Homo sapiens: one gene and its partners. The protein of the gene in region 1 purifies or fractionates together with the protein of each later gene. This does not show direct contact. Each region holds a gene or a part of one and is shown in the gene's direction. Other genes may lie near its edges. The genes, in order: NLRP1, ANP32B, CASP2, DCAF4, FBXW8 and ATP10A.

The links.
Region 2: the proteins of NLRP1 (region 1) and ANP32B purify together in Homo sapiens (affinity purification with mass spectrometry, with the first as the bait; one study listed by BioGRID). This does not show direct contact.
Region 3: the proteins of NLRP1 (region 1) and CASP2 purify together in Homo sapiens (affinity purification with western blotting, with the first as the bait; one study listed by BioGRID). This does not show direct contact.
Region 4: the proteins of NLRP1 (region 1) and DCAF4 purify together in Homo sapiens (co-immunoprecipitation; one large-scale study listed by IntAct). This does not show direct contact.
Region 5: the proteins of NLRP1 (region 1) and FBXW8 purify together in Homo sapiens (affinity purification with mass spectrometry, with the first as the bait; one study listed by BioGRID). This does not show direct contact.
Region 6: the proteins of NLRP1 (region 1) and ATP10A purify together in Homo sapiens (affinity purification with mass spectrometry, with the first as the bait; one study listed by BioGRID). This does not show direct contact.

What each region holds. Positions count from the first base shown.
Region 1 is NC_000017.11:5,581,055-5,586,325, reverse strand, and holds the start of NLRP1 (NACHT, LRR and PYD domains-containing protein 1), read left to right. Parts: upstream 1-1,816; 5' UTR 1,817-2,368; coding exon 2,369-2,639; intron 2,640-3,479; coding exon 3,480-3,656; intron 3,657-4,263; coding exon 4,264-4,467; intron 4,468-5,271.
Region 2 is NC_000009.12:98,006,555-98,011,305, forward strand, and holds part of ANP32B (acidic leucine-rich nuclear phosphoprotein 32 family member B), read left to right. Parts: intron 1-4,716; coding exon 4,717-4,751. UniProt on the Homo sapiens protein: Multifunctional protein that is involved in the regulation of many processes including cell proliferation, apoptosis, cell cycle progression or transcription.
Region 3 is NC_000007.14:143,297,878-143,302,628, forward strand, and holds part of CASP2 (caspase-2 isoform 1 preproprotein), read left to right. Parts: intron 1-639; exon of another isoform or gene 640-935; intron 936-2,045; coding exon 2,046-2,174; intron 2,175-2,326; coding exon 2,327-2,417; intron 2,418-2,502; coding exon of another isoform or gene 2,503-2,563; intron 2,564-4,751. UniProt on the Homo sapiens protein: Is a regulator of the cascade of caspases responsible for apoptosis execution. Might function by either activating some proteins required for cell death or inactivating proteins necessary for cell survival.
Region 4 is NC_000014.9:72,949,955-72,954,705, forward strand, and holds part of DCAF4 (DDB1- and CUL4-associated factor 4), read left to right. Parts: intron 1-1,843; coding exon 1,844-1,923; intron 1,924-4,206; coding exon of another isoform or gene 4,207-4,209; coding exon 4,210-4,308; intron 4,309-4,431; coding exon 4,432-4,529; intron 4,530-4,751. UniProt on the Homo sapiens protein: May function as a substrate receptor for CUL4-DDB1 E3 ubiquitin-protein ligase complex.
Region 5 is NC_000012.12:117,018,639-117,023,389, forward strand, and holds part of FBXW8 (F-box/WD repeat-containing protein 8), read left to right. Parts: intron 1-4,751. UniProt on the Homo sapiens protein: Substrate-recognition component of the Cul7-RING(FBXW8) ubiquitin ligase complex, which mediates the ubiquitination and subsequent proteasomal degradation of target proteins.
Region 6 is NC_000015.10:25,860,501-25,865,862, reverse strand, and holds the start of ATP10A (phospholipid-transporting ATPase VA), read left to right. Parts: upstream 1-2,535; 5' UTR 2,536-2,766; coding exon 2,767-3,215; intron 3,216-3,553; exon of another isoform or gene 3,554-4,081; intron 4,082-5,362. UniProt on the Homo sapiens protein: Catalytic component of P4-ATPase flippase complex, which catalyzes the hydrolysis of ATP coupled to the transport of phosphatidylcholine (PC) from the outer to the inner leaflet of the plasma membrane.

The sequences.
Region 1 (5,271 bases):
TGTGAAGTGAAACCTCCGAGAAAACCCCACAGTCTTGTTTGTTTGGGGTTTGGAGAGCTTCCAGGTTAGTGAAGCAGGGAGGGGCAGGGAGAGTAGGGTGCCCGGGAGGGCAAGGAAGCGCTGTGCCCCTCCCCCACCCACACCTTGACCTCGGCATCTCTTCCGTTGGGCTATTCCTGAGTCGTATCCTCCATCATGAACCGATAATAATAAATAAAGTGCTTTTCTCAGTCCTGTGAGTCATTTCAGCAAATTATTGAACCTGCCGGGGACTGTGGGAACCCTTGAATTTGTCACCAAGTCAGACAGAGATGCCAGTGGTCTGGGCACCCCATTTGCAACTGGCATCTGATATGAGGCCAGCTCTTCACTGAAACCCTAAACCTGTGAGGTTTGATGCCAACTCCAGGCAGTCAGTGTCAGAATTGCACTGTAGGACACCAGTTGGTGTCTAGAGAGTTGGTGCCAGAACTGGCTGGTGTGAGGAGGAAAAAAAGCCCACACAGCCCTCCTCCAGGCCATTCCTCCCGCTACATGGAGTCTCACGGTCCTTCACGGAGTGCTCAGAGCCTCCCGATCATCCCACTTTTAGCACAGCACTTTTCCACTTCTGGTCAATCTGATATTAGAATGTCCTACAATGTGCTTATTAGCCATTTTTTAAAACTAACATTTATAAAATTTATTTAGGCCAGGCACGGAGGCTCACACCTGTAATCCCAACATTTCGGGAGGCCGAAGTGGGCGGATCACCTCGGATCAGACTGGCTAACATGGTGAAACCCCATCTCTACTAAAAATACAAAACAATTAGCCAGGCGTGGTGGTGAGTGACTGTAATCCCAACTGCCCAGGAAGCTGGGCTGATGCAGGAGAATCGCTGGAACCCAGGAGGTGGAGGGAGCTTGCAGTGAGCCGAGATCTTGCCACTGCACTCCAGCCTGGGAAAGAGAGAGAGACTCTAAGACCTTTTGCTGAATTGAAGCCTCTTGGTAAACCTATGATGTCCCATTTAATAGATGGGCAAACTGAGGCTCAAAGAAATAAATCAGGCACATAAGGAGTCCTTGTCCAAGCAAGCCGTGGGTTGAAGCCTGGGCTCTGCCAGTCCAAGTGAAACCAAAGCATCTCCAGAAATTCCTGGTGGTGTGTTACATCAGCAAATGAGTAGGCAATGTCATTCCTCAACCTGAAGTCATTGGCATCTTGCAGATTCCACGAAAGAGGAAGTCTGCCCCTGGCTCCCCGAGGCCTGCTTGCAGGAATGAGGAAGGGGCTGTTCTGCTTTCAGGTGGAAATGTTCACCAGCTAAGTGCTGGGCTGCCCAGAAGGCAAACAGCCCCCTGGGCCTGGGACACATGCTTTAGTGCCCCTGGTAGCATGGCAGGACATGCAGTGCAACTCAAGAAGCTCCCAAAACCATGAGAGGCTGGGAAAAATGCTCCCTGGCCCAGTTCTAATGTTTCCCAATAAGGAGCTGCCCGGGCAGACACAGGGGGCCCCACCCATCCTGAGAGGCTGGGCCTGGGCTGCAGACACAACTGCTCGGAGAGTCTGCATCCTGGCTCTGCAGACAGGCTCTAGATGATGGGCTGGCGGAGTGCCCATGTGGAGGTGCACACACCGTGTTTAGTATGGGCCTGTACCTGCTGCAGCGTCAGCTGGTCTGGGCCTGTGCTCCTGGTCCGCCTATAGATGCCATGTGGCCCATCTGAATCTGTGACTCTGAGTCTGGCCTACCCAGGCCTGGTTTGATCCTACCCCCTGGCCACGCCCCTTGTGGGTTTCCTCTGGGTGACGTTTCCTTCCTGCTCTTGTTGACTAGGCGCTGTTCTTGCTGGCTGGTGCCCCAGGGCCTGGAGAGGTCTGAAGAAACCTGGGAGCCAGCAGCCCGGGGCTCCACTCTGGGTTCTGAAAGCCCATTCCCTGCTCTGCGGCTCCTCCCACCCCACCTCTTCTCAGCCTTGCAGCTCAAGGGTTGATCTCAGGAGTCCAGGACCCAGGAGAGGGAAGAATCTGAGGAACACAGAACAGTGAGCGTTGCCCACACCCCATCTCCCGTCACCACATCTCCCCTCACCCTCACCCTCCCTGCCTGGCCCTGGACCCCATCCCAGGACCTCCCTATCAGCTGACTTCTTCCAGTGTCTTGCAGGCCCCTCTGGGCTCCTCCCTCCCCTGGCTTTTCCTACCACTCCCCCTCTATCGGCGTCTATCTGTAGGTGCCCTGGGATTTATAAAACTGGGTTCCGAATGCTGAATAAGAGACGGTAAGAGCCAAGGCAAAGGACAGCACTGTTCTCTGCCTGCCTGATACCCTCACCACCTGGGAACATCCCCCAGACACCCTCTTAACTCCGGGACAGAGATGGCTGGCGGAGCCTGGGGCCGCCTGGCCTGTTACTTGGAGTTCCTGAAGAAGGAGGAGCTGAAGGAGTTCCAGCTTCTGCTCGCCAATAAAGCGCACTCCAGGAGCTCTTCGGGTGAGACACCCGCTCAGCCAGAGAAGACGAGTGGCATGGAGGTGGCCTCGTACCTGGTGGCTCAGTATGGGGAGCAGCGGGCCTGGGACCTAGCCCTCCATACCTGGGAGCAGATGGGGCTGAGGTCACTGTGCGCCCAAGCCCAGGAAGGGGCAGGTGAGTGGACAGAGGACCCCACTGCCCGCGGGACATCCCCTGGCCCTCATGCCTGCCCTGCCCTCTTGGGACCCCACCACTGAGCCCTCCCTGCCAGGCCTTCCTCTGAGCAGTGACATGGAACTGCCCTCTCAAAGGGGGATCCAGGCCCCAGACTATGCTGGAGCCAGGAGGCTTGCTGGGGGGGCCCTTGCTGCACCTCAGAGCCCCACACCCTCTTCTATTCAAGTGCATTCCCGGTACTCGCCTGGCATTGTAGTTATGAGCACGGACTTGGGAGTCAGGCACTATCACCAGTCCTGGCACTATCACCCTGGGCCAATCACTTCACTGCTCTCTGCCTATTTCTCTGTCTGCAAAATGGGAGAGTGAGAGCCCGCCTCCCTGGGCTGTGTGAGGGTTAAAAGAGATCATCCAGGTTAAACATTTAGCACAGAGTCTGATATACAGTAAGTGCTCAATAAATAAGATCTCCCATTGCTGTTGTTGCTGCTGCTGCTGCTGCTGTTATTATTACTATTAGCCACCCTGGGTTGCAGATGCCGTTGGCCCAATAAAGCACAGCTGAGGCTCAGTAGGAGTAGTGATTTACACAGGGAGATAGTCAGGACCAAGACAGATATGCAAATTTCCTGATCCTAGATGAGGATTTTTTGCCTAGCAGTATCTATAAGAACATCATTCTTCAGACAAGCCTCTAGAGGAAGTTGTAGAGGGCTGCAGCGGGTTCACTGGTGTATCCTGACCTCTCTTGGTTGAGAGAGGAGACCAGCTCAGTTCCCTGGCACCTTGCCCCTGCCCCTCTGATGTGTCTCCAACCTCTTTGTCTCTTTCCTGTAGGCCACTCTCCCTCATTCCCCTACAGCCCAAGTGAACCCCACCTGGGGTCTCCCAGCCAACCCACCTCCACCGCAGTGCTAATGCCCTGGATCCATGAATTGCCGGCGGGGTGCACCCAGGGCTCAGAGAGAAGGGTTTTGAGACAGCTGCCTGACACATCTGGACGCCGCTGGAGAGGTGAGGCTTGCTGAGGCAGGCTGACAGCCCTGGGTGGAGCTGTGAATCAGCTGGTGGGCCCCACCCAGAGGATCATGTCTGTGCATGGGGACCTGACATGGGGGACAGCAGAGGAAGGATAGGGGAGCCAGGATGGGCTGTGAGAGGTAGGCCTGAAATTGATCTTTCAGGGACCTTCCGGTGCTGAGATTGCATCCCTCCCCATGTGGCAGATGGGGAAGCTGAGACCCATGTGGGTCAGGCAATGAGTCTTCCCCAACTGGGTGCCCAACTCGTGACATGGTCCTTGCCCGAGAACTCAGCTCATAATATTGATGGGCTCTGAAGATCCTTAGGGTCAGGGTGGTCCAGAAGTTCCAAGGAGGACTCTGTTTTCCAGACAGACCCCAAGAAGAGGCTAGGCTTAGTCCTCGGCCCAAGCCAGCTCCCTCACATGACTTCTCTCTTCACTACTAAGAGAATAAAATTGCCCCTCTACTTCAACATGGTTTTCAAAATAATATTATTAAGACCCATCTCTCAGGACTGTTGTGAGAGTTTAAAATATATGCACCTAAAAGAAAATAAATGTTCAGTAAATGGTTATTTTTCTTTTCATTCCCCCCAGAAATCTCTGCCTCACTCCTCTACCAAGCTCTTCCAAGCTCCCCAGACCATGAGTCTCCAAGCCAGGAGTCACCCAACGCCCCCACATCCACAGCAGTGCTGGGGAGCTGGGGATCCCCACCTCAGCCCAGCCTAGCACCCAGAGAGCAGGAGGCTCCTGGGACCCAATGGCCTCTGGATGAAACGTCAGGAATTTACTACACAGGTGAGACCCTACTGAGCTCCTGGCGGGGTGGTGAGGTGGGAGAGGCAAATGTATGGACAAAGAGTCCCCTGGGGACCAGGTTGGCAGGCTAAGCAGAGGTTCTGGAAAACATCTGAAATTTCCCTCAGGAAATCCCACCCTTGGAGCCTCTCCACTGGTCCAAGGCACTGTTTCCAGGAGGCACCTGGACATTAAAATACAGATGTGTTACCCAGCACATCTGGGGGACAACAGAGCAAGGAGAGGGGAGCCTGGATGGGGTTACACATCACCTGGTTTACTGGACAGGGCACTGGCCTGGGGTCAGGAGAGCTGGGTTCAATTTCCACTGAGCTCCTCACCCCACAAGTGGCCTACAGCTAGTCCCATGCCCATCAGTGCTCACTGGACACTCTCTGGGTTAGACCATGTCCAGGGCTTTACGTGTACATTGGACTTAAATTTTACAACCACTCCGTGAGATAAATATTGCTATTATCATACCCTGGAGATGAGAAAACCAAGGATTAAAAAGATAGTCTCACAGTTAGTACTAGCAAAGATGGAATTCAGCCTTCACTCTCTCTCACGCAGCAATCCACACTTTTAACTCTTACACAGGGAGTGCCCTCATCTGGGCAATAAGGACAGTCATACTAAAGCCACAGGTACAGAGGCTCCTGATGCCACAGGTTCCTTAACCACTGAACCATGCTGCCTCTCAATGCCGGAGGATGCCTCCTTTGAAATCTGAGAGGTTTTAAGTTAAAAGGATTTCTTCTGCACCCAGCAAGGAGTGAACTTGTAGATTTTGTGGTCGTATAT
Region 2 (4,751 bases), on another chromosome or scaffold:
ATGAAAAGAAAGCTTCATTGAAAAGAAAATACCAAGAGTGCTACTTAAATTACAGGTTCATTGCAACAGATGATTCACATTCTCCAAGCCCACTTTGTATAATATGTGGCAACAAGCTATCCAACAAAGCCATGAAACCTTCAAAACCACTTCACTGGCTGGGCACAGTGGCTCATGCCTGTAATCCCAGCACTTACAGAGGCCGAGGTAGATCACCTGAGGTCAGGAGTTCAAGACCAGCCTGGCCAACATGGGGAAACCCTGGCTCTGCAAAAATACAAAAATTAACCAGGCATGGTGGTGCACACCTTTAGTCCCAGCTTCTCGGGAGGCTGAGGCATGAGAATTGCTTGAACCTGGGAGGCGGAGGTTGCAGTGAGCCGAGATTGTGCCGCTGTGCTTTAGCCTGGGCGATAGAGCAAGACTCCATCTCAAAAAACAAACAAACAAAAAAAAAACTGCTTCACCACTTGGAGACCAAGCACCCTGCGTTTAAAAGACAAGCCTTTGGAGTTTTTCAAAAGAAATAAACATGAACGTGAAAAACAGAGGCAATTATTGAAAGCTCCCACTTCATCAAATGTGACTGCACTGAGAACATCTCATTCTTAGTGGCTAACTGCATTGCTAAAGCTAAGAAGCCCTTAACTAACTGCATTGCTAAAGTAAGAAGCCCTTTACTATTGAAGAGTTGATCCTGCCTGCTGCTAAGGACATTTGTCATGAACTTTTAGGAGAGGCTGCAGTTAAGCTGCAGTTCAAAAGGTGGCACATGTTCCTCTTTGAGCTAGCACCATAACTAGATGAATTGATGACATAGTAGAGGATATTGAGGCATAGTTGTTAGAGAGGATTGATGAGTCACCGTGGTACACATTGCAGGTTGACAAGTCTGCCGATGTTGACAACATGGCAACAATGCTTGTTTTTGTGCAATATATTTTCAGGAGGATGTGCATGAGACTATGTTATGTGTACTTCGTTGCCAACCAGCACCACAGCTGCAGAACTATTCAAGTCTTTTGAACGATTACATATCAGGAAAACTGAATTGGTCATTTTGTGTCGTATATGCACAGATGGAGCGGCTGCCATGGCTGGACGGCTTTCTGGTTTCACTACTCGAGTCAGAGAGGTCGCTTCTGGATGTGAGTCTATGCACTGTGTCATCCATAGAGAAATGCTGGCTAGCTGACAAATGTCACCTGAACTTAACGTTTTGCAGGATGTGATTAAAATTAACCACATTAAAGTACATGCCCTTAACCCATGTCTGTTCACGCAGTTCTGTGAGATGGATGCAGAGAATACTTCTCTTACACAGAGAAGCGAGATGGCGTTCTAAAGGTGGATCACTGGCCAGAGTTTTTGAGTTAAGAGGCCTGCTCCAGAGATTTCTCTAAGAATAACAGTCACCACTAGCAGAACATTTTAGTAACACAGAATGAGTGGTAAAACTTTTTTTTTTAAGTTCAGGGGTACATGTGCACGTTTGTCGCAGAGATAAACGTGTACCATCCCATCACCTAAGTATTAAGCCCACTGTCCATTAGCTAGTTTTCCTGATGCTCTCCGTCCCCAGCCTCCACAGGCCCCAGTGTGTGTTGTTCCCCTCCATGTGTCCATGTATACTCATCATTCAGCCCCCACTTACAAGTGAGAACATACGATACTTAGTTTTCTGTTCTGAGCATTGGGATTTTTGACATGTTTCAAACAGTAGGAGTGATTTTTGAAAGAGAGTGAGCCAGGGCCTTCTTTCTCACAGCTGGTGCATGATCACCTATCTCAGCTCTCAAAAGAGTTTGAGCATTACTTCCCAACCACAAAAGACCCCCGAACTGGGAAGGAATGGATCCACAACCCATTTATGAATAAGCCAGGTCAATCGACTTTGTTCATGCTTGAAGAGGATCAACTGGTTGAGATCACAAATGGCAGTGGCCTTAAAAGTATGGTTTGAGACAACTTCAAAATCTCCATATATTCTGGATTAAAGTCGAGGTGGAATATCCTGAGATTGCCAAAAAAGCACTGAAAAACCTGCTTCCATTTCCAATATCCTATCTTTGTGAAGCAAAGTTTTCTGCAGTGACAGCAACCAAAACAAGATTATGGAGTATACTGGACATAAGCAGCACACACTTCGAATGTCACTGTCTCTCATTGCCCCCAGATGGGACTGTCTAGTTGCAGGGAAAACAAGCTCAGGGTTCCCATTGATTCCACATTATGATGAGTTGTATAATTATATCATTATATATTACAATGTAATAATAGAAATAAAGTGCAGAATAAACATAATGCGTTTGAATCATCCTGAAACCATCCCCCCACCCCCAGGCTGTGGAAACATTGTCTTCCACAAAACTGGTCCCTGGTGCCAAAAAGGTTGAGGACCGCTGTCCTACTGCACTACAGTCATCATCTTGGGTAGATACTTATCTCCTGATTCACAGGGCCTGACACTGAGTAGGTACTTGGTACCTGTTTGTTATTGCCAGCTATAAATAAAATAGCTTTCCCTTCCATTGACATATGACCAGAGTTTTAAAAGGTAATGATTTCAAATAACTATATGTTAGATTCCGTTTTTCATTCATAAGGGAAATAATCTCTGATCATAACATAGAATTAAAAGATGATTTTCAGTAGTTTTGGCATTTGACCCAGGATTTATACATATTTTACAGATTTACAGATTTTAAGAAATAACTAATACTTTCTACCCAAGATATTCCTCCTGATTAGTTTGTGTTTTCTTTGCATGCTGAGTTTGTTTATTCTCAGTCACTCTTAGAATAAAACGCTTCTCACGTACAGGTGGCTTAGAGCAGCAGTCTCCAACCTTTTTGGCACCAGGGACTGGTTTCATGGAAGACAGTTTTTCCACAGATGCAGGGAAGGGGTTGGGGGCGGCAGCTGAATGGTTTTGGGATGAAACGGTTCCACCTTAGATCAGGCATTAGATTCTCATAAGGAATGCACAGTCCAGATCCCTCACATGCGCAGTTCACAATAGAATTTGCACTCCTATGAGGATCTAACAGGTGATGTGACAGGAGGCGGAGTTCACGTGGTAATGGTCACTGGCCTGCTCTTCACCACCTGCTGTGCGGCCCAGGCCACAGACCAGTACCAGTCCTGGGAGTTGGGAACCCCTGGTTTGGAGGAAGCAGAATGATTAGTTTTCACATCAGTCAGCATGAGTATTTCTTTTCTTTAAAAATTAGCACATATGACAGAAATTATCAAGAAAATAGAGGAGGAAAAGCATCAAGGAGTTTGGGTGCAGTTAATGGTATAATTCTCTGGAAGCATTTTTACAGTTTTATTTTGAAGCATATTGAGACAGGCAAAAATTAATGAGTTATAAGGTGGTAAAATGGACAGAGAATAGGACATCTCACTTATTTCCAAATGTTATGTCCCTTTGTCCCTTCTACAGTTTTTCCATTTTTCCTAAAAACCATTTGTGCTTGTTGTCTATTTAAGTTCACCTCAAACAGGAAGAACAGCCACATGTGCAAGAGCCAGTAAAGGACATTCCTTGGAAGGTGGGGGGCAGTTCCTGAGAGCAAAGATGGGTCAGCCAACAAATACTTGAGCATTTCCTATGTGCCAGGCACTGCGGAAAATAGTGGTTTAAAAAAAAAAGGAACAAAAAAACAAGGTTCCTACCCTCTTGGACCTTACAGAGAAATGGTGTTTTTTTTTTTTTGTTTTTTTTTTTTAAATCATAAATAGGCTAGGTATGGTGGCTCACACTTGTAATCCCAACACTTGGGGAGGGTGAGGCAGGATGATTGCTGGAATCCAGGAGTTCAAGACCAGCCTGGGCAACATAGACAAACCCTATCTGTACAGAAAAAATTGTTTTAAATTAAGAATTCTAAATAATAATTGCAAGTAAGCAAAGTGTGTTGTAATGGAGAAGCACCACATACTCATGGTGAGAGCCTATGACCTGGCATTGGGAGGTCTGGTGAGTAAGACTGCCTAAGGAAGTGATGTTGACTGAGACTCCAAGGTGGAGTCAGAGTTAGCCAAGCAAAGAGGATGGAAAGAGCATGCAGAGACCAGGAGGCAGGTGAGAGCATGGTGTGCTCTAGGACCCAGGAGAAGCAAGAACTGCCGCACTAGAGGTCCGAACAACCAGCTAGAGATGCAGGTGCCTCTCAGCCTCCTGTCCCCTGAGTCACAGGGTTATTATGGGTGTTTCTCAGGTTCCTGATTTGAGCAGCTGACTGTGACTCTGGTAATGATACCCAAGAGAAGGTACATGATTTTTTTTTTTTTAACTTTTTACTGTCAAAAATTTCAGACAGTGACAAAGGGTAAAAATAATAGCAAAATGAACCCCCATGTTCTTATCACTCAGCTTCAGCAATTATTGGTCATAGCTGATCTTATTTTATTCCTGCATACCCTTACCTTCTTCCCCACTCCATATAATTTTGAAGCAAATCTTAGCCATTGTATCATTTCATCAGCGAGAATTATAGTGTTTGTCTTATCTACCAGGACTTCTAGCTCTCTGATTTTATGGGACTCTATCGGACAAAGGGACTGAGCTGTAGCACATAGTAGAAAGAAAGTGACTGCAGTTCGTGGCCTTACAGCATTTGTTCTGTGAGCCAGCCCACAGATCCTCAACACTTTGTCCCCTGTGGAGCGTCGAGGATATTTAATGAATCCCTTTTGGACTATTTTTAGAAGGAGAAGATGAGGAAGACGAGGACGATGAGGAT
Region 3 (4,751 bases), on another chromosome or scaffold:
TTATCTGTCATTACCTTAAGATTTCTATTATTATGGTTTGCTTCTACTTAGAAAATACAGATACTTTTCAACAACACCAGTCTCTTTATTTCTAGTTATATTGCAGACTTTCAAATATTTTATGTAATTGCATCTCAATTATCTACAAACAGAAGTATTCCGAACAGATCAATTAGTAGCTCTCAAACTTTAACATATCACAGTGTCCTGGAGGGCTTGTTAAAACACATTTTGCTGGAGCCCAAGATTTCACGTTTCTTCCAAGTTCCTGGGTGATGCTGCTGTTGCTGCTTTAGGGGCCACTCTGAGAACTACTGCAATATGTTATATTATAGAAGTGTGCTTTTTATTTTGGCAGTGTGTGTGATTAAATATATGTGTGTTTTAACTCTTCCACCCAGATAACTTACTTATTTTCATTACATTTTATTCAAGTTTATAATAAAATGAACTTGTTTTCTTTCTGCCCATCTCAGAAGACCCAGACATCGTGAATTATAGAGGGAGGCATAGGTTTAAACATGTGTGCCCAATTATTATGCTCTTTAGGTACACAGTATAACCTTCTGATGGATGGACCAAATGCTTAAGGTAGTGCTCTTCATGTATCGCAACTTAGTGCAAGATAAACAAGATTCTCCAGGCATGGTGGCACATGCCTATGGTCCCAGCTACTCTAGAGGCTGAGGCAAGAAGATTCCTTGAGCCCAGGAGTTCTAGGCTGTAGTGTGCTATGCTGATCAGGTGTCCAAACTAAGTTCATCATCAATATGGTAACCTCCTGGGAGTGGCGGACCACCAGGTTGCCTAAGGAGGGGTGTACCAGCCCAGGTCAGAAATGGAGCAGGTGAAAACTCCTGTGCTGATCAGTAGTGATCTTACACCTGTAAATAGTCACTGCACTCAAGCCTGGGCAATATAGCAAGATCCTGTCTAAAAAAAAAAAAGATAAACAGGAAAACAGTTCTTAAGTTGGACTACAACATTGACCAGTAATAGATTTCTTTGAGAAAAATACTCTTTATTCGACATGCACATTGTAATGGCACATTTTTTGCAATGTGTCCCAGACACAGTGATCGGTTTTTGGTTTTTTTTTTGAGACAGGGTCTCTCTCTGTCACCCAGGCTACAGTGCAGTGGTGCAGTCACAGCTCACTGCAGCCTCAACTTCCTAGGCTCCAGTGATCCCTCCACCGTAGCCTTTAGAGTAGCTGGGACTATAAGCATGCACCACCATGCCTGGCTAATTTTTTTTTTTAAAGATGGAGTCTTGCTAGGTTGTCCAGGCCAAGTCCTTTGTCATAATATCTCATTTTTATCTTCACAAACTTAGAGAAAATATCCTCATAATTTTTTTTTATAAAGTGAAAAGTGAGGTCTCAAGGGTCTGAGTAAGCTGTTCCAACTCATGAAGCCAAGGTTCAAACCTAGATTAATCTGAACCCAGGACCTGTGTATGTAATTACTGCCCTGTACAGAATCCTCCTTCATAGCGTGCTCTTTCTGAAACAAAGCATTTTATACAGTCATCATCATTATCTCTTGGACACTTAGAATCTTAGAAGACAACATACAAGTATTGCTATTCTCTACTATCATGATGCTGTCACAGAACAGTTTATTTTCGTGTAGCTGAATGTGCATGTTACTTATTCATAGCTACACTTTGAGTCACCCTTGTGCCATTTATATACAAGGGCAGTTGCTCTAATGAAGGATCTGGTTATGAACAGGGAATTAATCAGAGTTGACCAGCTCATGATTAGCTTCTTTAGTAACTTGCTTTAATCCAGGAGCTGTTTGCCTATCTCAGTGAGTCTGAATCTGTATTCAGAATATTGTGTCTGAACTCATATGCATTTTTCTGGTGAGTCCATAGCTTTCTTTAGTCTCTCAAAAGGTCTCTTCTTTTATCATTGACCACAGGAATATACATAAAGCGTTTTATCTTCTAATAGCTTAGGGTTTCAAAAAGAAACCAAACTTTGATGCTTATGTTGGTGCTGACCTTAGTGCACAACACTAAACATTCCTTTCTTTTAGGAAATGCAAGAGAAACTGCAGAATTTTGCACAGTTACCTGCACACCGAGTCACGGACTCCTGCATCGTGGCACTCCTCTCGCATGGTGTGGAGGGCGCCATCTATGGTGTGGATGGGAAACTGCTCCAGGTGCGGATACCCTGGTGGAAGCCAACTGTTGAAACCAGGCTGCTTTACCTCCTGCCTGCTGTCTGTCAAGTGATGGCTACTGTTGCATGTGTAGGACTTAGGAGGCCCCGCTGAATGCTTAACCTCTCTTCTTCCTTCTTTCTTTCTGGCAGCTCCAAGAGGTTTTTCAGCTCTTTGACAACGCCAACTGCCCAAGCCTACAGAACAAACCAAAAATGTTCTTCATCCAGGCCTGCCGTGGAGGTGAGTGCCCTAGCAGACCAGCACCTGGGTGGTGGCTCCTGGGCAGCCTCCCACCAGCTCTCACTTTCCTGTTTGCTCCTCTCAGGTGCTATTGGATCCCTTGGGCACCTCCTTCTGTTCACTGCTGCCACCGCCTCTCTTGCTCTGTAAGTGTCTCCCAATGCATGGGGTGTGCTGGGACTTGGGCAGCCCATGGCTCTCAGGCTGGTCAGCTCTCCGTGCACCACCATATCCTGTTTTCAGGTCTCTTATCCCGTGTCTTTGCCTTCCTTTCTGAGAACTCTTACTCTTTTCTGTGCTTCATTAACTCTGGTGCCCTTTTTTTGGTTACTCATTCCAGTTACGGATTTTTGATCTGTCTTTTTCCTGTCCTTCTTATTTTATCTCCTTTCTTTCACTCTTTGTTCTTTTCACTTGTTCCATATACTTCCCTGTTTACCTACACTTCCATGCTTGCCTCCTTTCTTCTTTCTTCTTACCATTCTTGGGTCATGCAGGATAGCAGAACAGAATCCGTGTTGGCCTTTGACTCTTCCTTTTCCGTGAGCTGCTGCTGCCCCTCTTTCTCTCATGCAGTCTGTTTTACTCCTTTAAGAGCCAGGACTGCAGGACGAGGATTAAAAGACACATAGGTGTGCTTCTCATCCTGGAGGAAAATAATAGTAATTAAGAGCCCTAACTTTGGAGTCAAATTCTGACTTCACCATTTACTAGTAACGTGAAGTTAAAGAAGTTAAATGGCATCCCTCCATCTCAGTTTCCTCAATATAAAATGAAAATAGTCCTTGTACCTACTTCATAAGGTGCTTGTGATGGTTAAATGAGATTATGCATTTAAGGGCTTACATAGCTCAGTACCTGGCTCACAGCACATCCACAAAATATGCCAGCTGTAACTCTTAAAACACGATCAGTGCCGTAAAGGGCTTATAGTTTGCTTTAAAGGTCACTTTGTCCAAACATTCAAATAATTACTTTTTTAATCTCTCATGTGGCCAAATGTAAATAGCTAATATTATTGTCATCCTGATCTAGTATTACCGCAGAATATAGTCTGCTGAGGCCCTGCAACATGACTCAGACTACGGCAGTTACTACCGCAAAAGCAGAAGGAAATGTGGCCTCTCTAAGGAGCAGACCAGTTACTCAGGAAAATAAAGTAAATATACATGAAGTAGCTTAAGACTAGTTCACAGGCCTCATGTAAGCAAAGGTGAAATTAGCAAGGTACAAACTGTACTTAGGAAGGAGTATGCAGTAAGAGTAGATCATTTTAAGTGAGGGTAGTTTAAAGAGATTTTTTAGATAAGATAAGGCTTAATTTGTACCTGGAGTAATTTGATTTACATAGTTATAGAGTAGTATCTAGAGTCTGTCGTAGGAAAGAAACAATACAATATGATAAGTACACTGAGAGGCAGAGGGCATGTTGTGTCTCCCCTCCTCCCAAACAGATGCTCGGATCTGATTTTAAAATAGCATCTGTGTGAGTATGTGAGATGTGGCTGGTCACAATGAAGTGGGTTCACCTCCTTACAAACCTTTAGTCATAACTGAGGTTTTGGACATCAGCAGGTAAAAGTAAGGAACAGTTGGGAGCTTAAGTAAGAAATAATGTGATGAATTGTTTTTCCAGCAAGGTTGCCATGGAGGGGGCTGCACTAAGGAAAGAGGTTATGGGTCAGCAACTTTACTTTTCATTCCCTGCTCTATCCCCAGGCCCAGGGCACTGCCTGATGCATGGTAGCACTTATAAATGTTCAATGAATGGATGAAAATTAATCTGCCTGAAAAACTGTAGGTATTATGTAAAAAACAAATATGAGGATATTGTGACAAAAGAACCAGTGACATTTATTGATTGATGGATCTGTGATATAAAGGTGAGAGAGGAATTCTCCTTTCTCTTTAGCTTGGCCTGTTTCCTTTAGGCGTCTTTACTAACAAAACGACGTTAAATTGTGATTTTCTCATCCTATATCCAGGGATTTAATACACTATTGGATCTGGATAAGGAGTAATTGCTCTTTTCTGGAGTAATCTGGATCTTTTGCTCTGTCTCTCTAACTTTTCTGAAATTAAATCCTTCAAGGAATGACCAGTAGCCAATTGTTCCATTGAAAATTTGAGTTCACCTGTCTTCCTGCTGTATTTGGTTAATATAATTAATGTCTAGAAAAAGCTCCACCCCCCTGCCCCAGTCAGCTTCTAAACTGGAGTGTAAGCTCCATGACGGCAGGAATTTTCTCTTCACTCTATCCCTAGGCCTTAAAGTAAGACAGTGCCCAACACATGGCAGTTGCTTGACACATTTTTATTAAACCTGTGCTTTGG
Region 4 (4,751 bases), on another chromosome or scaffold:
TTGCAGCCACCTTCCTGGAGGGAGACCCATGAGGGCAGGAAGAGGCCAGGGACCCCTAATAGGAGGAGTTGGGAGAAAGCTTGGTATGTTTGGCAGCAGTTTGATATTCATGATGTCTCTGGCTAGGGAGCAGGGCCTTTCAAGACTGAATGCTCGCTCAGGGCTGTGGGAGGTCCCAGGGGGTTGTGATTGTGGAGTCATTTTTGAAAATGATTCCTTTGGTGGCATTGTTGGGGGATAGACGGACGAGAGCAAGTCCTCAGACAGAAGCTGCTGCAAGACTAAGGGCGGTGGTGAGGGCGTGAAACGAGGTATCAGGAGTGGAGGGAAGGGCACCAAGAGGCAGGTGCAGGCTCTAGCCCGGGCATCTTGTGATAGGAGAAGGCCAGGATAGACCTCCCAGAGAGTGGTGGGTTGAGGCCAAGGAGTGTGTAGTAGAAATTGGGCTACATGGCCATAGGGCAGAACTGGAATGTTTCCATCAGATTTAGAAACCAGAGGCTCATTGAAGACTGATGAGAACATTTCTCTGGGAAGGTGAGGGTCAGGCCTGGATTTCAGTGGAGGAAAGGCAAGGGAATGAGAATAAATACAGGCTCCTCTGGAACAAAGTTTGGCTATGAGGGGAAAAGGAGAGGAACCGCGTCAGTCAAAAGACACACACGTAGGCAAGGGTATAAAGGGGCAGGTCAGAGAGGGAACTCCAACGACTATGCTCATGTGAACAGAGACACCCACATGTAGTCAGGGAAATGCAAATTTAAATAACAGTGAGGTATCACCTGGTACCCATTCAGATAAGCAGAAATTTTAAGGGCTGGTAGTGAGATATTCCATGCAATGCCATTTCTGTATGTTTTTTTTTAAACAAAAGCTGCTTTGTGTTATTTATTGACAAATATATGTAGTGGAAATACAGCATGGCTTAGAAGAACTTACACCAATTTGAGAAGAGCAGTTCTCTCTGAGTAGAGGAGAAGGGAGAATTGGACTAGGGAGGGATCAGAGAGGGCTTTTTGGGCTTTTTAATAGTATTTTATTTTTGAGACATGGTCTTACTCTGTCACCCAGGCTGGAGTGCGGTCACATGATCACAGCTCACCGCAGCCTTGACTTCCAAGGCTCAAGCAATCCTCCCACCTCAGCCTCCCAAGGAGCTGGTACTACAGGCACACACCACCACGCCCAGCTAGTTTTTGTATTTTTTGTAGAGACAAGGTTTTGCTGTGTTTCCCAGGCTGGTCTCGAACTCCTGGACTCGAGTGATCCTCCTGCCTCAGCTTCCCAAAGTGCTGGGATTACATAGGCAGGAGCCACCACACCCAGCTTTTAACTATATCTGATTTGTTTTTCCCTTTAAAAAACATCTGAAGCTGGCCAGTCACGATGGCTCACCCCTATAATCCCAGCACTTTGGGAGGCCGAGGCGGGCGGATCACGTGAGGTCGGGTGTTCGAGACGAGTCTGACCAACTTGGAGAAACCCCGTCTCTACTAAAAATACAAAATTACCCGGGCGTGGTGGCACATGCCTGTAATCCCAGCTACTCAGGAAGCCGAGGCAGGAGAATCGCTTGAACCTGGGAGGCAGAGGTTGCGGTAAGCCGAGATCGCGCCATTGCACCCCAGCCTGGGCAACAAGAGCGAAACTCCGTCTCAAAAACAAACAAACAAAAAAAAAACATCTGAAGGTAAATGTGGGCAGTGTAAACGCATGTTGAATCTGGACGGTGGGGGTTACTCTGGCCTAGGTTGTGTGCCGTATGACTTTCTGAAGGGTAAATGTCCATGCCTCCTCCCAGAGGGGAGCCTTGTGCCTAACTGTCCTTAACAGCTTTTTCCAGGCTATGCCTCATGGGACTCGCAGAGACTCCAGGCTGTGCCACCCTGCTCCCAGCATCACTGTTCGTCAATAGTCACCCAGGTACAGGGTTCTCCTCCTTTAAAGAAATCTGTCCTCTGTCTCCCGAGAGCTGTGTGGGGGTGGCTTAGAGAGAAGTATGGGGCCGCTGCAGAGGCACTGTGGGAGGATTCCCTAAGCCTGTCCCAGGGTTAGTACCAGAAGCATGTGTTTTTTTTACAGCATCTGCCCCTTTTTACCCATCTTGGGCCATTTCAGTCATTTCAGCAGCCAGAGCAGACTTAACACGCATGTAAACCAGCGTGAGCTCAGAACAGATTCGGACGCCCGTGCACATCATTCAGAAAACACCTCTGAAGGTCCAAAGCACCTCAGGTGCTATCAGGGATACTTAACAGTCTGCCTACGTTAAGGCAATTTGACTCCTCCTTCCTGACAGCATTCTGGATATTACATTTCAGTCTATCAGAAAATTAGGATCAATAAGACCAGGGTGAGAGGCCTCTTAAGAGTGTGGGCTTCAGGCAGACCTGGCACGAATCCCAGCTCTGCCCCTTGCCAACTTGAATGGAATGTTGAACCTCTCTAAAGTGGACAGGGCCTTCTCAGTCCACATCCGTGGAGAATTAGGTGAGATCATGCACATTTAGCCCAGTGCCTGGTATTTCATTGCACAGCAAGCTTATGAGGCAGGAGTGTGTCTTACCACCATTTTACAGATAAGGAAACTGAGGCAGACAGTTTCAGAATTTGTCTTACAAAAGTAATTTTTAGTGTTGGAGGTCAGGCTCACAGTACCCTTTGGGGAGGTAGTAATTGGGAAAGGGATGTGAGGGAGGCCTCTGGGGTACTGGATTGTTTTATGTCTTGTCTTGTCTTTTTTTTTTTTTTTTTTTTGAGACGGAGTTTTGCTCTTATTGCCCAGGCTGGAGTGCAATGGCACGATCTCAGCTCACCACAACCTCCGCCTCCCAGGTTCAAGCAATGCTCCTGCCTCAGCCTCCCAAGTAGCTGAGATCACAGGCGCACACCACCACGCCCGGCTAATTTTTGTATTTTTAGTAGAGACGGGATTTCACCATGTTGGTTAGGCTGGTCTCGAACTCCTGACCTCGTGATCCACCTGCCTCGGCCTCCCAAAGTGCTGGGATTACAGGTGTGAGCCACAATGCCCGGCCTTTTTTTTTTTTTTTTTTTTTTTTTGAGATGGAGTTTCACTCTTGTTGCCCAGGCTGGAGTGCAATGACACGATCTCAGTTCACCGCAACCTCCGCCTCTGGGGCTCAAGCGATTCTCCTGCCTCAGCCTCCCAAGTAGCCAGGATTACAGGCATGTACCACCACACCCGGCTGATTTTTGTATTTTTAGTAGAGATGGGATTCTCCATGTTGGTCAGGCTGGTCTCGAACTCCCGACCTCAGGTGATCCACCCGCTTCGGCCTCCTAAAGTGCTGGGATTACAGGCGTGAGCCACCACGCCTGGCATGGATTGTTTTATTTCTTAACCTGGGTGGTGGGTACATGGCTATATTTAGTTTGTGATAACTCACTGAACTGTATCCTTACAATCTGTACGTTCTATCAATGCAAAAGTTTATTTTAAAAAATATTTTTTCGAAGCACAGTGGCTCATGCCTGTAATCTCAACACTTTGGGAGGCCAAGGCAGGATAATCGTTTGAGCCCAGGAGTTCAAGACCAGCCTGAGCAACATAGCAAGACTCCAATCTCTACAAAAAATAAATAATTAGCCATGTGTGGTGGCTCACACCTGTGATCCCAGCTACTTGGGAGGCTGAGATGGGAGGATTCCTTGAGCCTGGGAGGTTGAGGATGCATTGAGCCATGATCACGCCACTGCACTCCAGACTGGGCAAAAGAACAAGACCCTGTCTTAAAAAAAAAAAAAAAAAAAAAAAATATATATATATATATATATATATATATATAGTTTATTTATTTATTTATTTGTGTGTGTGTGTGTGTGTGTGTGTGTGTGTGTGTGTGTGTGTGTGTATATACACACACACTTGCCTGAGATCACATAGCTGGTAGGTGATCGAGGATCGGAGCCACCTTACCTCCAACAGTATACTACCTCCCTGATATCAGTACTATTCGTACTGTAAACACGACTACTGGGAACGTTAACAAAGATGCATTTTCGGAATAACCACTTGTGAGCCAGGCATCCCAGCTGAGTCTCTCTTGCAACCACAAAACCCAGAATGGGGCCAAAGGTATAGACCCTCTGAGCAGCTATGGGCATATTTGGATGTTTTCCGAACCCAGTGGTCCCTGGCCTGCCTAGAAGGCAGCCACACTTTACATTCTCCTATCCCCTTAGCAGGAATAGACCGGCCTGGCATGCTCTGCAGTTTCCGGATCCCTGGTGCCTGGTCCTGTGCCTGGTCCCTGAATATCCAAGCAAATAACTGCTTCAGTACAGGTGAGCCTGGCTCCCCAGGTGCCCAGAGAAGAGGCCTTAACAGGCCTTAAAACCCCATGTAGTTGTCCCTCTCCCCAGACTACATGTGACATAATCTTACCAGCCCATCTCTGTCTCCGCCAGGCTTGTCTCGGCGGGTCCTGTTGACCAACGTGGTGACGGGACACCGGCAGTCCTTTGGGACCAACAGTGATGTCTTGGCCCAGCAGTTTGCTCTCATGGTTGGTTGGATTGGGACAGGCAGAATATAAAAGTTTGCCCCATGTAGAAATTTGGCCAGATTGAAATTGGACTCCTCTGTGTGCCATCTAGTACTCTTTGACAGGGGAGAAAGAGCATCAGAAAGGATCAGTGGGTTCCTTTGTAAGGGTGTCTGAGCCGAGTGAAAGTTGGTTGATCCAGAAAGGCTGGCCTGAGTTGCTCTACACAACCTCTCATGGAAA
Region 5 (4,751 bases), on another chromosome or scaffold:
GAAAAATGTTTTTCCTTTTTCCCAGGGGGGAGAAATTCAAGGCTGGTTTGGCCTATTTTTTTTTCCTTAGTGATATAAAATACACTGAGGCCGCATCTTTTGGTTTATTTGTTTATTTTGTTTGGAGCCATCCATGCTGGTATCTAAATACAATAGGAAAACAGATGGCAAACTTTGAACTTCTGGACCAAATTTGTGTTTGCCTTTGTCTCCTTAACAGCCAAACTGTAAATTATGGAGTATAAATATTCAACAGAGGAGCTCTTTATGGAAATCACCATAGCTGAATAGACTCTGATTAACCAAATATGCACTGAAAAGTACTTGGTAAACACTTCCGCTCCCCCTTTCCCCAATCCTTTTCAAGTTCCCATTATGGACTAAGGTTAGAGTTCTCTTTACAGCATTTATACTTTTTCTCTTCTCTTACCTACGCATGCCTAAGGATAGGTGTCTGTAAACGTGACAGAGAGAGACCTTTGTTTACAAAGTCATCTTCAAGCTCTCTCTGCATCTTTCTGCTCCCAGATCCCTCACTGGCAAGTCAGGGACTGAGCAGCATTTGTAGCAACGGACCTATTATGTATCATCTATACATTATCATCTGTGTCCACTGGATGGACTTGTTATGGATCTCAGAATTTTGGATCTAGCAGACCTCTTCAAGACCATCTAATGCTGGTCCAGAAAGGTTCAGTGGCCAGTCCGAAGGGCTTGTTAATGTTGGCCACATAGAATTTTATGTTCTCTATACAGAGAACTCTCAACTTGTCCCTGGAATCGGTTGTCTTGGCATATTCTGGTGCCCATTTGCTGTGCTACCTGTTTCCCAGCGTTGAGTATATCTATTCACTTGGGTTGCCTTGTCAGTTACATGGCCTAGCAGGAAGAAGAAACAGTCTCTCCTCTGTGTCCTAAAACGACGTGTTGTTCCATCCTGTTTTATTTCACCTTTTCTAAGAAATAGATGAAAGTATTATTTTTTAATTATGAAACCGAACATATGTATGGGAGTGTATATAAGGTGCGCATACAGTTTCAAGAGTAACCGAGAATGCCCGCGCATCCACCTCTCAGCTCAAGAAAGAGAGTGTGACTGTTGAAGGCCTCCCGGTCATGAATGAATTCTTGTTTTTTAAACATGGCAGCGTCCAGAATAAAACACAAAAGCCGCCTTTATTGCCCTCTTTCTTCTCCAAGGTAATTGTTGTTAATGTTTCAAGTACGTGCTTCCAGAATTTGATCTTTAAAATTGTTTGGTTTTATTTAAACAGGAAGTACGCACATTCAAAATGGGCCTCAAAAGCAGAGTAGCCTAGAGGGCGAAGCGCACCCCTCTTCCCAGCAGCCTTGTCAGCCTCCCTCATTGCGACTGCTTAAATGCTGAGCGTTCTCTGGGGGCCGCCCACACACGCACAGCCTAAATGCATGTCCCCCAGCACACACCTGTGCGCACGGCTGCCAGTCAGCCTGTGTAGTTCTGCCCCGGGTCCCACTGTATGGATGTACCATAATTGCTTTAACTAGCACTCAGTTGAAGAGCTAGTTAATCGTGTCACCTACGTCATTCCAGTTCATGACAGCTAAAATGTGTCTGATTTTTCCTGTCAGTCTAATTATCTTTCCTTAATAGGTAATGTCTTTTTCTCTCAGGCTGCTTTTAGGACCTCTTGGTCTTTGTGTTTCCCCATTTTTTAAATTATACTCTTAGATATGTATTTTGTGTTTGATTCGTGTGCATTGAGTCGGCATGCATGTCTTTCATCAGTTCGGGAAACATCAGCTGTTAGCTGTCCGCACTCTGTTTTTCTCCTTCCGGAACTTGGGGCGTGTGGTGCACCACCCCTTCTGTCCCTCATGTCTCTTATACCCCCATTCGCAGTTTTCATATTTATCTCTTTGTGCTCCATTCTTGGTAATTTCTTCACATTTTTCTTCTGATTCACGCATTCTCTGATCTGCTTCCAGCCTATCTCCCAAATTTAATTTCAGGGACTATACTTTCATGCTTTTGTATTGAAAGCAGGAGTCTCCATACTCCGCTCCCTGCCTAGGGTGGCCCTTCAGTGTGTTTGATGAAACCACGGAGCTGAGCCTGGCGCTTGCCAGCAGCCTCCCCTCCCCTGAAGTCGCAGCTCACCCTCTCCTGTCTGGTTTTCAGCTCAGGTCCTGGGGAAGTCACTTCCTACGTGAGCTCAGCAGTGCCCTTAAAAGGATTTTATCCAGCATTTTTAAGCGTTTTACAGTGGAACTGTCAACATGTTGTCTGAAACAGAAGCCTCTTTTGCAACTAAGAGCAGTGACTGGCCTTGCGTGTATGTGGACTCTTGTGTAGCTACCTCCTCGAAGTGGAATTGCCGGCTCAGAAGTGAGGTGCATGTGGTATTTGGTTGGATATTGCCAAGTCACTCCCCAGAGAAGGATTTCTGCTCGCCTCAGCTGTCTAGGAGTACCTACCTGTCCATGTCTCCCTGCCACACAGTGCCTCGTAGGGCATGTTACCAAACTTTACCTTTGCTGGGTAGATTGGTGACAAGTGGCATTGCATTGTAGTTTTACTGTGTAATTTATCTGATTACCAGCAAACTTAAACATCTTACACATGTTTAAAAGCCATTAGTATTTTTCTGTGAATTGCTTTTTCTTATCTTTTCTGTCGATTTAATAATGGGTTGTCAGTCTTTACTAATTTGAAGGCATTTATTATAAGACATTAGCCCTTTTTGTTGCAAACATTTTCCTCAGTTTATCATTGGACTGACTTTCTGATTGTTCCCCCCAATAGGAAAAAGTTAAACCCTTTTTTCACCTTCCATATTTTGTTATGTTTAGAAAGGTCTTCCTCCTTTGAATATGTTTTATAGTTTATGTTTAACTCTTTGCGCTCTCTGTAATTTGTGTAATATATGTGATTGATAGAGCTCCAAGTTGAGAAAATTATTATAGAGTATTTTGCCTCTAACTGCTGTTACAAATGGGACATTTTCTTTGATTCTATTTATTTTTAAACTAGATTTTAGCATATAAATTTATATTTGACTCTGTGTTACTGAATTCTCTGGGACTGTCCCTTCTCACTGATAAGAAGTCTACCCACTTCTTTCCGATTTTTTTTAACCTTTCATTTTTTCCTTTTGTCTAATTGTGTCTGGTTTTTAAAAAGCGATGTGAAGTAATGGTGGTGCCAGTGCCTCACTGTTTCTAAAGACCACATCTGGAATGGCTGTGACGTTTCATCCCGTTGCTTTCGGCTTCCATGGACGTGACTGCCTGGTTTTTCGTTGATTCCCCTTGTCTGTGGCATCTTGCTGTGGAGTCTGTTCCTGATGTTTCACTCGGATATGTAGTTTTCTTTGATCATGCTCTCAGGGTTAGGCTTTGGTAATAGAATGCTGGCTTCATGGAGAATTTGGAAGCTTTCCTCCTTTTCCTAGGCTGTGGAACAGTTAACTTAGCCCTGGAGGCAGCTGGTCCTTAACAGGTCTGGCCAAAGTCACTTGTTCTTTTTTTGCAGGGATTGTTGCCCCTTGCTGGCTTCCTCAGGCTGCTATTTGTTATTTTATCTACTTGGATTTTCTGTCTCCTGGGGATTCGTTTTGATAATTCTTATTTTCCCAGAAAGCCATTTACTCATCTAAGTTTTCAGATTTGGAGATTTTAAAAATTCAAGAAATAGAAATAATTTCTGAATAGATTATAGTGACTAAAGAAACTATTAAAAAAAAAAAAAAACAGGCTGGGTGCAATGGCACATGCCTGTAATCCCGGCACTTTAGGAGGCTGAGGTGGGTAGATCCCTTGGCCCAGGAGTTCGAGACCAGCCTGAGCAACACAGCAAAACCGTCTCTACTGAAAATAAAAAAAAAATTAGCCTGGTGTGGTAGCACGTGCTTGTAGTCCCAGCTATTCGGGACGCTGAGGTGGGAGGATCACCTGAGCCCAGGAAGCTGAGGCTGCAGTGAGCCATGATGGTGCCACTACACTCCAGCCTGGGTGATGGGAGTGAGGCCCTGTCTTTAAAAAAAATAATAAACAACAAAACCTATAAAAAGAAATGTGATCCATGGAGTTTGTTTTTCCAGGTCTGACCGAACACTGAGTAAACTGCCCCTTCGTTGTTTTAAGTGCTCTCAGTGAATGCTTTTGCCTTGAACTACTCTGCCTTTTCTAGCATTAAAATTGCAACATCTTTTCATCCTCCTTTACAGATGTGTTTTTCATGCATAGCATATATTTTTACTTTGTGATCCATGGGCAGCTCTTCTTGTTAATAGGAAGGTTTGTCCTGTGTGCCTCCATGGACCCAGCAGACACACCAGGTCCCACTTAAGCCATCTGTCTTCTTGTTCTGGTATTTTGCTATGCCACTTTCTTTCAGAGAGTATCCACAGGTAGTTCACTTTGAGTCCTTTTCTGTTAAAGAAAAAGAAGTCTTTCTTTATTATGCCTTCACACTTGGTAGCTAAGCTAGGTATAGAATTGTTGGTTCAAAATAATTTTCCCTCAGAACTTGGAAAATTGACGTGTGTGCGCATGCTTGCATAACTAGAGTCAGGGCACGGGACATGTTTCAGAGAATCCTGTCGCTCCACAGCTTTTGGGTCAGACGTGCGTTTTTAATCTTACATCCTTGTGCTTGTCCTGTTCCTTGCTAGATGCTGGGGTCTTTCTTTTCAGGGCAGGGACTGTCTTTTCCTTTTCGACTTGCATCACAGGGTCTCTTAAGCTCATCTTTACATTTATTAAATGTA
Region 6 (5,362 bases), on another chromosome or scaffold:
TGAAGGTTTTAGAATGAGTGTGAGGCAGAAGCCCCACCTGTTTCTTAAACACATTGAGATTTCTCCTTCTTTGGGACCTTTTGACAGAGCTGCCCCCTCTGTCTGGAAGCCTCTTCCACCTGATCTTGTCCCATTCAGGTTTCAACTCCAGTGCCTCTCTTCGAAAAGGCCATCCCTCATCCCTTCCAAAGCCCTCCGTGGGCTCTCATGGTTTTTCGTTCAGTTGCTGCAGCTCCATGACAACATCTTGTCCTCTCTAGCTCTCCGATGAATTCCTGTGCCTGGAACATTGCCGGGCATACAGCAGGGGATGAGTAAGTATTTGCCGAACAAGGACACTTACAGTGGTTCTCATGGCCTATAGCAGGCCCTTGTTAGAGCCCTGTGGTGCAGATGGCCAACCCAGAGTTGACCAGACCACATCAGAGCCTCATCCTCGCCCCAGCAGGCCAGGGTCTCAGAGTCCAGCTGGCAGAAGACACCTGAGCTCAAAACCCCTCCACGATTCCCCAGATCACACAGCTTGGAGACCTTTCCAGAGGTGAGCTGAGCTAGGCCTTCCTGGAAATCCTGACTTTGCACTGGGGAAGAGCAGGTGGAAAAAGATTCCAGACTTGAGGAGCATTGTGACTCACAGAATCTTGGAACCTTAGAGCGGAATGTGGATGGGATGAGTAAGGACTGTTCTGAGAAGGATAAGGAGACCTCTCACCTTGGGGCTGGGCCTGAACCAGGGAGGGGCTGAAGAAAATCAGCAAGCTGGTTCCCCTCAGGGCCTCAAGGGACCTCTGCCTGAGGAATCAGCATTTGGCTTTGTAAGCACCAGGAGTACTCCTGGAAGCTCCAGGGTAAGCAAATGGAATGAGGCGGTAATTACTTTGGCAACAGTGTGGACTGGCTGAAGCTGGGAGTCTGGTAGGCGCGGACACCCCTGGAGACTTTGGGCGAAGGGTCCACGGGGATGCCTGTGAAGACAGGAGGCCGAAGTGTAGGGAGGCCGAAGGCCTCGGGGGTCACCAGGTGGGCTGGTAGAGGAAAACACGGAGCCATGGGATGTGAGGCCTCAAGACTGCAGGCGCTGTGGGCCTTCATTTGCAGTTGATGCTCCGTTTGGGTTTCTGCTGGTTGACTGTGAGACCTGACTCCTTTCCCCAACAATGCAGACTTCAGCCAAACCTTTCCCTGATCTGGGCCTCTACATGTCAAAAGCCCACCCCTGTGACTGGGGGATGGGATTATTTTCTTCACACCTGTCACCACTCTACCTTCTAACACTGGGTTCTGGGCAACATTGTGGATGGTGGCAAAACTGGGCAGAGATGTAAGAATGTCATAACTGGAGCCGGGTAAGCCAGGGTGCTGGAGGGGAGGGCCTCCCCAAGCCAGGGTCCTGGCGAAGACGTGATTTGAGTCCATCCAGGGCAGTGCCTTGTTAGCAGGCACCCCCAGGAAGAGCCTGGGGCCACGGCCAACCGCCCAGCCACGGCCTCCTGGGCAAGAAATAACTGCTTCTCATCTCTGTACTTCTTGAGTGGGAGGCAAACAGTCACAGCCATGAAACATCTGTGGGGTCTCACTGCGGACGTGGGGGACTCCCAGCTCCTTTTTCCATGCCGTGCTTATTCTCCCACCCCTTCTCGGATGCCCCATGATGTGGAGGGGAGCCCTTCGCCCCACACTTCTGGGACACCCTCCTGACGCTCCCCTCTCCTCCCCACAACCATCCTCGCCTCCCCACAACCATCCTCGCCTCCCCCGCCGTCCGGGCCATGACAGCCACCTCAGAGCTACAGCGCACAAGGAGCGTTTCGGTCCTCATGATTTCCCAGGGAGGGAAACAGACACTCAAATACCTGCAAACCAAATTCTGTCTTTGCTATAGCGATATATTTCTCCTTTCCATGAAGAAAGAACAGAAAAAAGAAAAAGAATTTATTTAGGAGAGGAAGGAAAGGCAGTAATGATGATGGTGGAAAGGAAACGGTCTAGTTCGCCCAACAACGGAATCTGAAAGTGGTGGGGGCTGGGAAGTGGGGTAGGAAAGAAGTTCTTAGAGGCAACGCGGAATCGCCCTTCCCAGGGCTCCCCAGGAGCAGAGGTCCTGCGTAAAAAAGACTTAAAAATTGGAGCACTGGATGCCATGGATCCTTTGGATTTTGATTCCAGTTGATCCCTGGAGTAAGGTCCTAACCGGGGTCTCCCGAGGTCGTTTCGCCGTCCAGGATGGAGCAGGTCTGGCCCCTGGAAGGGCGCGCGGGCTGCTTGGGGACGGGGGCGCCTTTTCTCGCGCTTCGCGGTTTCCTCTCTCCTACTGCAGGCAGCGCGCGTTTGCAGCGTTTTGGGACCGAACTGATGCTTCTGGGAAACGAAACTAAACCTCTCTGAAGTTTCCAGCTCGGGCTTTTTTTGTTTCCCGCTATCCGGCGTGGCCCAGTCCGGGCGCGGAACGAGGGCGGGGCCGTGGCCACCGCGGCGGAAACGACCCGGGCCGGGGGCGGGCGGCGAGGACAAGGGGGCTCTGTGCGGCACCCGCCCAGCTTGCGCCCTGGGGACTGCGGCCGGGCGGCGGGGCTGGACGGGAGTGGACGGGGCTGGGCGCGGGCTGGGCGCGCTGGGCCGGCCAGGCGGCGCGCTGACCGCGGTCTCCGTGCGTCCCGCAGGCGGGGAGCTCGCACCGCCGCGCCCGGGCCGCGAGTGATGATAACCTAAGAGGCCGGCGCGGGCGGGCGTGAGCGGCGGAGGAGCCGGGCGCGGCGACACGCGGCCATGGAGCGGGAGCCGGCGGGGACCGAGGAGCCCGGGCCTCCGGGACGGCGGAGGCGCCGAGAGGGCAGGACGCGCACGGTGCGCTCCAACCTGCTGCCGCCCCCGGGCGCCGAGGACCCTGCGGCTGGCGCGGCCAAGGGCGAGCGGCGACGGCGGCGCGGGTGTGCCCAGCACCTGGCCGACAACCGGCTCAAGACTACCAAGTACACGCTGCTGTCCTTCCTGCCCAAGAACCTGTTCGAGCAGTTCCACCGCCCGGCCAACGTGTACTTTGTCTTCATCGCGCTGCTCAACTTCGTGCCGGCGGTGAACGCCTTCCAGCCCGGCCTGGCACTGGCGCCGGTGCTCTTCATCCTGGCCATCACGGCCTTCAGGGACCTGTGGGAGGACTACAGCCGCCACCGCTCCGACCACAAGATCAACCACCTGGGCTGCCTGGTCTTCAGCAGGTGAGTTGGGCGGGCGGGCGAGCGAGCGCGCGGTGGCGCAGGGCAGGGCGCCCCGGGAACTTGGTGTTGGGCACAGTGATTGGCAGGGGCTGGGTGCTTAGAAGGCAGCTCCACTCAGGGTGGAGGGCCCGGCTGCGCGGGACCCGGTGCCGACCGAAGCCACAGCGCCGCCAAGGCCTCTCTGTGCCTCCGCCGCAGCTAAAGGGGCGCCCTGGATGCGGGGACGCGTGGGGATCCCCTGTCACTCCGTGTCGGGGCCAGAATGATCCCAAGGCTAGAAACCGACGGCCGCTGGACATCCTCATCCACAGCCGCTCCCACCTGAAGTGAAAGGCAGGAAAAGCCAGCCTGGCCCCCTGGCCTGAAGTCCCTGCCTCAGTCTTCGGCCAGGCACAGTGGTCTCTGAACAGCCGGCACAGGACAGTAAAGCTCAGTCTGCTAACAGCTCGGCTCAGGACAGCAGCAAAGTGAAACTGCCGCCAAGTGCTGATATGTCTGGCACGGCCCAGGTACCAGGGCAGGGGAAATAACAGCAGTGTCCATCCTCCACTGTGAGCCATGAGCCGCGAGCCAGGCACCGCCCGGTAGCTGCCTGCCTAATTTTCTTCATCTTAACCTGCTTCCTGGGGGAAAGAGGCTGTGGGGTGTTTGTGAGCCCTGCCACGGGCAGTACCAGGGGTGACCCTGCGATGGACCACTCCTGCTCTTTTTCCCTCCCTGAGTTTTAGAGTCTCCGGCGGACCTGTCCAGAGGCCTGCGGCCTTTTCATCCTTTATGCTCTCCACCCCAGGAGAGCCCCTTGGTAGATCCATCTTGGAGCTGTGTCCAGCAGCCTGGACCACCTCAAGGCCCTGTCCCTGAGAAAGGTGGGTCGTCTTAGCTTTCCTCCAAAGCTCAGCCCATCGTTACCTCCTGCCTCACCTTGCTTGACCCCGGAACAGGGACTGAGATGGGCTTCTGAATAGAACATTAGCGGTATCTGGCTTCCATTATGCATGGGGAGACTCTAGGAAGCCCTATGCTCTCTTAGTGGCAGATTGTTCCCCTAAAAGAGGAGGGTCAGAGTGGCTCCTGCCTCTTAAACGTAGGCATTCACGAATGCCTTAGACACAGGCACTCATAGCTTGGATGAAGCCATGGATGCGTGCCTCTGTAGTTGAGTACCTTTCACCCTCCCAGCAACACTGCAGTGGTTATGCTCCATATTTTTGTAAACAGAGTAAACGGGTTCAGAGAGGTTAAGTAAACCTGCCCAGTGTCACACAGCAGCAAGGTCGTGGTACTGGGATTTGACCCAGGTCTTCCCGCCCGCACAGCTTTTTGAATATTTCTTTGCTCGTGCTTCTGAAACTTTTGTAAGAGTCACTGAAGGCGCTTGTTAAAATTACAGTTTTCCAAAGTGTCTCACTCAGCAGGCCTGGGATTGAGCCCAGGAATGTATTAGATTAGCGTGCACGTAACTCTTATATGATGGCCCACACTTTCAGAAACACCACTCTGCCTGCTCCCAAGCCTTGCTCTTTGGCCAGTCAGCAAGAGTGACTGTCATTAGACCGGGCTGTGGGATTTCCTGGCCCCTGTTCACCAGAAGCCTGAGCAGGGACAAGAGCGGCACCCCTTACACAAATGGCCTCCGTGTCCCCTGAGCGAGGCCTCCACCACATAGCCCTGGTGGGGCTCAACAGTTTTAAGCCTTTGCACAGATACCACTTCCTGTTATTACTGAGCCCGTAACTCCTGTAGCCTCCTTTTTAGAAATACTTATGCCTCAGGAGAAATACAGTTTATTTTCAGTTGGCAAAGTGCTTTGAATCCATTATGTCATTCGATCCTTATAGTAACTATCACACCCATCTTGCCGATGAGGAAACTGAGGTTGGGATCTAAAAGCTATTCTCTTGTCTCTGTGACCTTGTAAGGCTTCATGGGACTTTGAAACTTTAGCTTCCATTTGGACTACACCCATCTACGTTCCCCTCCCCTTCCACTCTGCCCTTGACTCCAGATATCTTAACTCTCCCTCAGACTCTGTCTTCTTCCTTACTGAAGGAACTGTCAGCATTTTTCATTCACTTCCCAGCTGCCTTGAGGACAGTGGGCGCAATGCCCTACTTCTGTTTATTGTTCCCTGGGAAGGCAGGTCAAAT